2 separate regions of the Homo sapiens genome follow, and region 2 is linked to region 1. The links come from fine-mapping of genetic effects on gene expression. A gene starts in region 1. The other region holds a variant in brackets. All regions are shown on one strand. Distances are between the middles of the regions. Region 1 holds the start of NUFIP2 (nuclear FMR1 interacting protein 2). Region 2 has its middle 24 kb from the start of NUFIP2.

Region 1 (5,379 bases):
CAAGCCTTCCAACTGAATGTCTAAGTCAACAAAAAATACCAACATAATCTTAAATTGTATATATACTTTTCTTTCTTTCTTCTTCTTTTTTTTTTTTTGAGACAGGATCTCGCTCTGTTGCCCAGACTGGAGTACAGTGGCACAATCACAGCTCACTGCAGCCTCCACCTGGAGGGCTCAAGTCATCCTCCCATCTCAGCCTCCCAACTACAGGCACACACCACCATGCCAGGCTAATTTTTAAAAATTTTTGTAGAGAGAGAGTCTCTGTATGTTGCCCAGGCTGGTCTCGAACTGCTGGGTCAACTGATCTGCCATGGTCTCCCAAAGCGTTGGGATTACAGGTGTGAGCCACCACACCTGACCTGTTTTTTCTTTAATAATTGGGAACGTGGCAGAATATTATTCAGTGGTAAAGACTTATTGTGATATGATATTATTATTAGGGTTTTCATTCTCAAAATTGGGTAAATGTACCCCCAAAGAGGTTTTTCTTTAAAATTTAGCAAAGCTGGCTGGGCCTGGTGGCTCATGAATCCCAGCACTTTGGAAGGCTGAGGTGGGCAGATCACCTGAGATCAGGAGTTCGAGACCAGCCTGGCCAACATGGAGAAACCCCATCTCTATTAAAAATACAAAATTAGCCTGGCACAGTGGCGCATGCCTGTAATCCCAGCTACTCAGGAGGCTGAGGCAGGAGAATTGCTTGAACCCAGGAGGCAGAGGTTGCGGTGGGCTGAGATCATGCCATTGCACTCCAGCCTGGGCAACAAGGACAAAACTCCATCTCAAAATAAAATAAAATAAAATTTAACAAGGCAACACAAATCCTTACTGTATAGAACATGCCAAAATTTGGTCATGGTTTTCAGGATTCAATGACATTTGTTATTGGAAACCAGCTTTTACGTTTTAAATAAGCTTTTGCATTGACATTCATTAATTTCATAGCATAAACTTTTTGCTTTCAAGCTTCTTGTTCCTTTAATGTTGTCCTGTTGTAGGAATTCAAGCCACATTTTAAAAATTCAAAAACGTAACATACATTGAGGAAACAGTCCATATGTCCGTTGCTGAGTGAATGAACAAAATGTGGTATATACATATAATGGAATATTAGTCAGCCTTAAAAAAGAGGGAAATTCTGATGTATGCTACTCTGAAGACATTATGCAAAAAAGCTAGTCACAAAAAGACAAATACAGTACAATCCCACTTATATGAGGTACCTAGAATAGTCAAGTTCGTAGAGACAGAAAACAGAACAGTGGTTATCAAGGGATGGAAGGAGGAGGGAAAGGACATTTATTTTTATTGGGTATGAAGTTTCAGTTTGGAATGATGAAAAAGTTCTGGAGATAGATGATGGTCATGGTTCTACAACAATACGAATGTACCTAATGCACCTGAACCATACACTTAATATTAAGATGGTAAATTTTATATTATGAATATTTTACAATTAAAAAAATCCCCCAATCTATAACATACATTGGGAAAAGTGCATTTTATCTGTATATTCAGTTTAACAAATAATTACTAAGCAAATATATGTAATCACCACCTAGCCCCCAAAATGAAATATTATCAGAGTAACCTGTGTCCCTCCCCATCACAACCCTCTTCCTTCCTGAGTAACCACTATCATGGCTCTAACATTTGCTTTTGAAAATCATATACTGTGATGTGGTAATGCAGGATAAGTTAAATCTACACTACAAAACGCTACAGAATATTTCTTTTAATTTCAATTTTTCCATAAGTGCCAAAAAAAAAAAAAACAAACCCACTTAATAACTTTTAAGTGCTCTTTCTCCCCTTCCTTTGCTCTTGAAACTTCTCATTCTAAAACCTATTTTGGTTCCACAGTTGACCTCACCTGCAGAGTTTAATTAAAAAAAAAAAAACCTTCAGTGTAAATTTTCATTCCTCCTGCTCTCCCTTGCCTCCAACTACAAAGAAACAATGATTTAAACCCTTTGTGCCCTTTTAGAAAATTACACAGATACCCCATTGTGGAACCCTATAATCCCTTCGTGGAAAGGAAGAGATTAGCATATGAATACAAAGCAAAATGAATCCAGAATACAAAATGATCTACTGGATTGTGAAGCTCTTGTATGCTTAAAAATGTATTTATTTCCTCTTTTTGTATTGCCCCTTTAGTGGTCTCGGGGTTAAGGGAATTGAGCTTCCCTTTCTGGTTACCCGGAAAAGGATTAAAAACAAAACAAAACAAAAAACAAAAAAACACCAGATTCTAAGAGGTGCAAAGCCAGCAGATGGCTCACAGCACCAGTGGAATCGCCAGTGGAATCTGCTACCCTCGACACGAGCCTGCTTGCCGGCGAGGAGTGTAGAAAGTGCTGTTCACAGACTGCGTGGTGAAGGAGAGAAAGCGACAGAAGAGAGAGCCATAGTGCTGACGTTGAAGGCCCGGCCCTGTGAGGTTGCACAGGGTAAGTGGCGTTGGCCAGGCGGCAGCGGCGAAGGGGAAGGAAAGAGGATTTGAGCTGGGGGCGGGGCTTGCGGCACAGCGTGGCTCCTGATTGTTGGAGTGCGGCTGCCAATCTCGCAGAATCGCTCGGTTAACCAGTGCGCTGGCGAGACGCGCTCAGATATACTGAGTGAGCCCTGAGAAGCAGTCTCAGATCCTGACGGTGCAGCAGCCCGCAGCCTCAGCCAGGGAGTCCCAGCCGCTTTCAATGGAGGAGAAGCCCGGCCAGCCACAGCCTCAGCACCATCACAGCCACCACCATCCGCACCATCACCCTCAGCAGCAGCAGCAGCAGCCGCACCACCACCACCATTATTATTTCTACAACCACAGCCACAACCACCACCACCACCATCATCACCAGCAGCCTCACCAATACCTGCAGCATGGAGCCGAGGGCAGCCCCAAGGCCCAGCCAAAGCCGCTGAAACATGAGCAGAAACACACCCTCCAGCAGCACCAGGAAACGCCGAAGAAGAAAACAGGTCTGGGAGGGAGGACGGGTGGGGGAAGGGGGTTGGGGGTGGAGGACAGGAGAGATGGGGGTGGGGCTGGATCCGAAAAGCGCGGACGGGGTCGGGGTGTGTGTGTGTGTGTCCCCTCCGGCTCTGGGGATGCCCCTTTCATTCTAGAGCTCGGGCTGAGCAATGGGGTTTGCAGCGCCCTCTCCTTCCCTCCAGCATGGGAGAGGCCCAGCCAGGCCAGCGTGACCTTCCTGGCCCCGGCCCCGGCTGAAGGGAGACCTGCTGGGTCGGCCTTGCAAGTCCAACCTCATTATTCTTTTCCCATTCACCTCCCTGCGTCCCTGGAGTTACCTCAATTTGGGGGCCCTGAGATGGGGTAAACCTACCCCCCCAAAAAATCCCTCGAGGTGTAACTCAGGAAGGCCTAGCGAATCCCGACTCGGATGGTGTCGCGAGACCCTTTTGCAGGCGGCGAGGAGTGGGTAGGTAGGGTGAGTTGAGGAAGTGCCCCTCACCCGCCACCCCAAGCCCACCTGTGGCCTTGGGGCTCCCCGTCTCGGTGGGGGGGGCTGTTGGGACCCCTCATCTCACGGGTCATTTCCACCACTAAACGCCCTTTTTGGGCGCCGGACCCCGCAGTCTTGTCCCGCGGCTCCTCCCGAGGCCGGCGCCCCGCGCCCGCTCCCCCCAGAGCCGGCGCGGCTGGAATGTTCTCTCCTCCTCGCGGGGCCGCTTCCTGTCCGCCATGTTGGAAGCCGATTCCTGTCACCGACTCCGGCCCACTGAGGAGCGGAGGGGGAAGGGTGTCGAGGGCCACACGGGGCGGCGGAGCCGGGTGACCCGGGATCACCACCGGCCGCAGCCTCGCCCCCTGCACTGCGGGGGCGCCGGCGCCCCCCGCACCGCGGCCGCCCCCCCCCCCGTCGCCGGCCGGGGTTGTGTAACCCGGTGGCGGCGCGCGGCCCCGGGCGGGTCCCTGGGGTGAGGGGCGGGGGCGGTTGGGGTGGGGGAGGGAAGCGGCCACGAGGGGAGCGGCCTGCGCAGGGCCCCGCGCGCCAGCGGCCGCGTTTCCCGCTCCCGGGTGCGGCGGGAGGCGCGGGCAGTCGGGGCGGGGAGCCGGCCTCGAAGCGGAGCTGAGAGGGAAGGAGGCCGCGGGCGGCGGCCGCGGCGCTCCTAGAGGCAGGAGGCCTGGGGGGGCGGCGGGGGGATTCATTTCGGGTAGAGGCGGTGCCTGAGGCCGGGTGGGGTACCCAGCGGGAACCCAGCTCCCCGGTCACGAGTTTCTCTGCCACAGGAACCTCGTCTCCTGCCAGGTTCGCTCACGACTCCGCCTCTGAGGCTTTCACTTGGGCCTTTTCCTTCTAGCAGCTCATTTTCTACAAAAAAAAAAAAAAAATCCAAAAACCTTGTTCCATTCCCCTCCCGACCCAGCACTTACCTTCTGAGCTTGGGTAGTGTCTTTGAGGTGAGGGATTTTAAAAAATGTTAGGATGGGGAAGAGTGCGAGCTTTTTGACCCCTCTTTCTTGTCCTTAAGGGTGAACCCAAGTGGCTCATCCATGAGGTTAGACTACTACCATCTTGCCTCGGATGAGGCTTCTCTCCGTGTTAAAAAGAAAGGTGTTTTTCGTATTTTAAAATCGATATTGATCCCCAAACTAATCTTAATAAACGAGAAATTGAGGGTAAAAGTCATGTAAGAAAGTATTTCACGAGAAGTGAGTTTAATAGTTTATAACCCACGCAGATTTTAAAAAATAAGGGCTCTTTATAAATCGAAGAGAAATGAAGCGTAAGAAAGCGTATGTTAAACCCAGCGTATCAAATTTGATAGAAGGAATTGTTGAGAGCTGGAGAAATACTAAGTGCTTTTTTATTGCAGATTGTAACTTGAAGACTGAAATTAGAATGTCAGATTTTCCATTTTGGGACTTCGTAGGGACCCGATAGTATGCAATAGAAGTGAACACATACGCACGAGTTAGGTGTTTTAATCCTAAAGATTTGGAACAGTTTAAAAACTGTTAGGGACTATATAACTAGATTTTTTAGCATTAGATCTTGTTCAAAAGATGAGAAAATACTACCATATTATGGCTGCATAAGGCAATATTACTGTTGAGATTGAAAAATTGTATCTCATCGGTCAGGTTAATATACTCTTGCCAGACTTCTCTCTACATGTGGAAGCAACCGCTGAACCATTCAAGGTGGTATTCCTCCAAATATTTCTTGTCTTGGAAGGGGTGGATAAAGAGGAGGAAACTGGAATTAGCAGTTTTGACAGAATGTAAACAGTTTGGGGCGAGTGTATGATTTGGTCACAGTACTGTTGCTTTGACATGCATAATGCTAATAACTAAGAAAACATTACAATATTTTTGAAATTTATCTGTAACATGTTGAGGTAGGCTTTGGT
Region 2 (5,379 bases), 24 kb before region 1:
TCCATTATTCTCATTTTGAAGATGCTGAAACAAGGCCCAGCAATAAAGTTAAAGTTAGGTGTCAGACCTGAGAAAGACCTGTGCTGCTGCCATCTGTGCACTGTATCATTGCACTGTGCTCTGTTCTTACTGGGATGAGGAACAGTGAAGCCTACACACACCTTTCCATAAGAGGTTGCACTGGTCTTCTTTCAGTTACCCCAAGGCTCCAAGCTTTTTTTCTATCTTAATGGCCTTTGTATTGGCTCACTGCAACCTCCGCCTCCCAGGTTCAACCAATTCTCTGCCTCAGCCTCCCGAGTAGCTGGGATTGCAGGCGCCCACCACCACACCCGGCCAATTTTTGCATTTTTAGTAGAGACAGGGTTTCATCATCTTGGCCAGGCTGGTCTTGAACTCCTGACCTCGTGATCCACCTGCCTCGGCATCCCAAAGTGCTGGGATTACAGGCATGAGCCACCGTGCCTGGCCCCTCCCCTAACTCTTATCTTTTGGGTCCTGGTTGAGATGTCAGAGAGACTGTTTAGGTATCCCTCTCCTGCCCTACCTCCCTCATTCTCTTTCACAGTATTTTATACTTTCCTCCAGAGTACTCATCACAATTTGCAATTATATGTCTATTTGTGTATGTATTTGTCTTCTCTAACAGGCTCTTAGCCCTATGTAGGCAGGGATACCATCTGTTTTTGTTGTTGTCTTTTTGTTTTGTTTTTTGTTTTGTTTTGTTTGTTTGTTTTGAGACAGGGTCTTTCTCGCTTACCCAGGCTGGAATGCAGTGGCGCGATCTCAGCTCACTGCAACTTCCACACCCACACCCCATGGGCTCCAGCAATCCTCCCACCTCACCTTAGCCTCCTGAGTATCTGGGACCACAGCTGTGTACCACCACACCACCACACCTGGCTATCTTTTTGTTATTGTTTTTGTTTTTGTTTTAGATGGAATCTCTGTCACCCAGGCTGGAGTGCAGTGGCACGATCCTAGCTCACTGCAGCCTCCACCTCTCAAGGTCAAGTGATTCTCCTGCTTCAGCTTCCTGAGTAGGTGGGATTACAGGTGCCCACCACCATGCCCAGCTAATTTTTTGTATCTTTAGTAGAGGTGGGATTTCAACATGTTGGCCAGGCTGATCTAGAATTCATGACCTCAGGTGATCCACTGCCTCGGGCTCCCAAAGTGCTGGGATTACAGGTGTGAGACACTGCACCCAGCCTATTTTTTTTTTTTTGTATTTTTAGTAGGATCTCACCATGTTGCCCAGGCTGGTCTCAAACTGCTGGGCTCAAGTGATCCACCCGCCTCAGCCTCCCAAAGTACTGGGATTACAGGCGTGAGCCACTGCACCCAGCCCCCCATCTGTTTTGTTCTTCATGTTAACGCAATGCCTAACACAGTGCTGCATGCTGCATGTATAGCAGGCTCTTAAATACATATTAATTGAGAGAATAAATGAATAAATGAATGAAATGTTGTTTATTACATGCTACTCTGGTAAAGGATAGCTTGGGGTAGAAATAAATGTTACTAACAATATTTAAATGATTGATGTTGGGTTTAAGCATCCTCTACCGTCACCCCATCTCTACCCTCACCATCAAGTAGCATTTGTCTACCACATCTAATCTCCTAGTGCCAAGCCCTAATCTCTGTATATTTGGAGACTAGTTTTTGGAACAGATACATGTACCAAGACTGATTCAGTTTACAGGATTTTAGGCTTAGAGGTTCTTACTGAAATAAAGTTTGATTTCACATTATTCTGGATTAACTCCAGGCATTCACCATTCAATGTGAATAATTCAATGTTATTCTGGAGTAACTCCAAGGCATTCACCATGCAAAGGAAAAGACATTTGTTTTGTTTTGCTAAAACTGAACTTAAACTATATGAAAGACACAGCTGCATTTATAGATAATTTTGTGCATTTTAGGTATCCAAGAGTGGGCATTGTTTTTGGGTGGACATAATATTTCTTTTCTTTTTTCTTTCTTTCTTTCTTTTTTTTTTTTTTTGAGACAAAGTGTTACTCTGTTGCCCAAGCTGGAGTGCAGTGGCACCATCTCAGCTCACTGCAACTTCCAAATCCCGGATTCAAGCAATTCTCCTGCCTCAGCCTCCCAAGTAGCTGGGACTACAGGCATGTGCCACCATGCCCGGCTAATTTTTGTATTTTTAGTAGAGACAGGGATTCACTATGTTGGCCAGGCTGGTCTCGAACTCCTGACCTCGTGATCTGCCCTCCTTGGGCTCCCAAAGTGCTGGGATTATAGGCATGAGCCAC[C/T]GCAACCGGCCTAAATAATATTTCTATTTGTACTGATATCCTACAAACTTTGTATTATATAGTTTAATAATGTATTTTTTCTAATTGTAAAAACAAGTATGTTCTTTGTAGAAATTTTAGAAGTTGCAGAAAAGCATGAAGGAGAAGCAAAAAGTAGAAAGAAACAAAAAATATCACTCAGAATCTCATCATTAGAGATAATCCTTGCTAACATTTTGGTATAGTCTCTCTCAGCCTTATTTCTTTTCTTTTCTTGCTCTCTCTTTTTTTTTTTTGTTTGAGACAGGGTCTTGCTTTGTCACCCAGGCTAGAGTGCAGTGGTGCAATCATGCCTCACTGCAGCCTCAACCTCCTAGGCACAAGCAATCTTCCCCACTCAGCCTCCTGAGTAGCTGGGAATGCAGGCACATGCCACCATGCCTGGCCAATTTTTTTTTTTTTTTTTTTTTTTTTGAGACAGAGTCTCTCTCTATCACCCAGGCTGGAGTGCAGTGGCACCATCTCAGCTCACTGCAACTTCCGTCTCCAGGGTTCAAGTGATTCTCATGCCTCAGCCACCTGAGTAGCTGGGATTCCAGGCTCATGCCACCTGCCTGGCTGATTTTTGTATTTTTAGTAGAGATGGGGTTTCACCATGTTGGCCAGCCTGGTCTCAAACTCCTGACCTCAAGTGATACACCTACCTTGGCCTCCCAAAATGCTGGAATTACAGGCATAAGCCACCGCACCCAGCTGCCTGGCTAATTGTTTACATTGTTTGTAGAGACACAGTTTCACCATGTTGCCCAGACTGGTCTCAAACTCCTGTGCTCAAGCAATTTGCCTGCATTGGCCTCTTAAAGTGCTGGGATTACAGGTGTGAGCCACCGTGCCTGGCCAGCTCAGCCTTATTTCTATGTGTATGTTTGGGTAGGTGCACACATATATTTATGATAGTTATCACCTGTAATCCCAGCACTTTGGGAGGCCAAGGCTGGCGGATTGTTTGAGGCCAGGAGTTGGAGACCAGCCTAGCCAACATGGTGAAACCCCACCTCTCCTAAAAATACAAATAATTAGCTGGGCATGGTGACACATGCCTGTAATTCCAGCTACTCAGGAGGCTGAGGCACGAGAATCTCTTGAACCAGGGAGGCAGAGGTTGCAGTGAGCCGAGATCACACCATTGCACTCCCAGCCTGGGTGACAGAGTGAAGCTCTGTCTCAAAAAAATTATCACATACATAAGGATATACTAGTTATTTACTGAATATGCCAGGAAACTTCATTTCCTTTTTAAACATATTAACTCTTGTAATCCTCTCAATAGTTATATGAGAAGATATTTTTATTCTTACTTTATAAATGAGTAAACGGAGGCTGAGAGTATCAATTTATTTGCTTAAGGTCATGTCATTAGTAAATGGTAGATCTGAGATGCAAATCTAGATCTAAAAGTCTATAATCTCAATCATTATGCTATATAGCTGTGTGTACATTTCTATGTTTTAAATCAAACTGGAATTACCATAGAAATAATTTTGTTTATTTTGAGATGGGGTCTTGCGCTGTCACCTAGGCTAGAGTGAAGTGGTGCAATCACAGGTCACTGCAGCCTCAACCTCCTAGGCTCAAGCAATCCTCCCACCTCAATCTCCCAAGTAGGCCCGGCACGGTGGCTCATGCCTGTAATCCCAGCATTTTGGGAGGCCAAGGTGGGCGGATCACCTGAGGTGGGGAGTTAGAGACCAGCCTGACAAACATGGTGAAACCCCATCTCTACTAAAAATACAAAAATTAGCTGAGTATAGTGACGGGCGCCTGTAGTCCCAGCTACTCGGGAGGCTGAGGCAGGAGAATCGCTTGAACCTGGGAGGCAGAGGTTGCAGTGAGCAGAGATCACACCATTGCACTCCATCCTGGGCGACAGAGCGAGACTCCCTCTCCAAAAAAAAAAAAAAAAAAAAAAAAGTCTCCCGAGTAGCTGGGACTACAGGCATGCACCACCATGCCTGGCTAATTTTTTGTATTTTTTTCTAGAGATGAGGTTTTACCATGTTGCCCGGGCTGGTCTGGAACTCCTGGGCTCAAGTAATCCGCTTGTCTCAGCCTCCCAAAGTGCTGAAATTACAGGTGTGAGCCACCGCACCCGGCTCTTATAGCATTTCATATGTTTTACTAACTTAATTTTCATGACTTTATGATCTATAAGATTAAGGAATATAAATGAATGAATAAGATATTGTTTATCACACATACACACACTGGTATAGCTTGGATTGAATAGATGTTCTGATGTTTGAGATTATTTTAATCATCTTAATTTTTTTTTTTTTTTGAGACAGAGTCTCGCGCTGTCGCCCAGGCTGGAGTGCAGTGGTGCGATCTCGGCTCACTGCAGCCTCCACCTCCCGGGTTCAAGCAATTCTCCTGCCTCAGCCTCCCAAGTAGCTGGGACCACTGGTGCGTGCCACCATGCCCAACTAAGTTTTTGTATTTTTGGTAGAGACAGGGTTTCACTGTGTTAGCCAGGATGGTCTCGATCTCCTGACCTCGTGATTCACCCGCCTGGGCCTCGTGAGCCACAGCACCCGGCCTTTTGTCTATTTCTATATGAACTGTTTTCTTTGCTTTTAAAATGCTGTCTACTGCTTCGAAAGATGATCATCTGGGTTTTATTCTAAAAGTGCCTACCTTTAAATTTTAAAAAAACCCACCTATTTTCAATGTTAAAATGAAACAGCAGCTCTTGATTTCTCCTGTGTATGATTGGGGTATTTAGCATACTTTTATTTTCCCTCATTCTTTACCTCCCACTCCCAACCCTCCCAGCTCAGTTTTATTAATATTGTTTGTCCTTTTAAACCTTTATTATTCTTCTTGGAAAAAGACATTTCTTTTTTTACATTACAATTTTTTCTTACAAAAGTTATTTTGGACATTTAAGTAAAGTTCTATTATGTATAAGTCCTTTTATAGTTCTTTTTTGTTTCTGTTTTTTGTTTTGTTTTGTCTTGAGACGGAGTCTCGCTTTGTCGCCCAGGCTGGAGTGCAGTGGCATGATCTCGGCTCACTGCAAGCTCCGCCTCCTGGGTCCACACCATTCTCCTGCCTCAGC

Evidence for each region. PIP is the estimated chance that this variant, and not a neighbour inherited with it, causes the effect.
Region 2: its variant is the best candidate, but not a certain one, in a credible set for the expression of NUFIP2 in whole blood (INTERVAL, PIP 0.60).

Annotation. Positions count from the first base shown.
Region 1 is chr17:29,291,386-29,296,764 of GRCh38, reverse strand. NUFIP2 (nuclear FMR1 interacting protein 2) reads left to right here and starts at 2,617. Exons shown (of 4, transcript NM_020772.3): 1 at 2,617-2,982. The coding sequence starts at 2,706. RefSeq lists enhancers at 2,249-2,448, 2,759-2,858, 2,552-3,312 and silencers at 3,019-3,138, 3,769-3,948.
Region 2 is chr17:29,315,144-29,320,522 of GRCh38, reverse strand. No RefSeq gene overlaps it. Among named protein-coding and RNA genes, the nearest start is that of NUFIP2, 24 kb to the right of the region's middle. The variant C/T (reference allele first, on the strand shown) is at 2,283.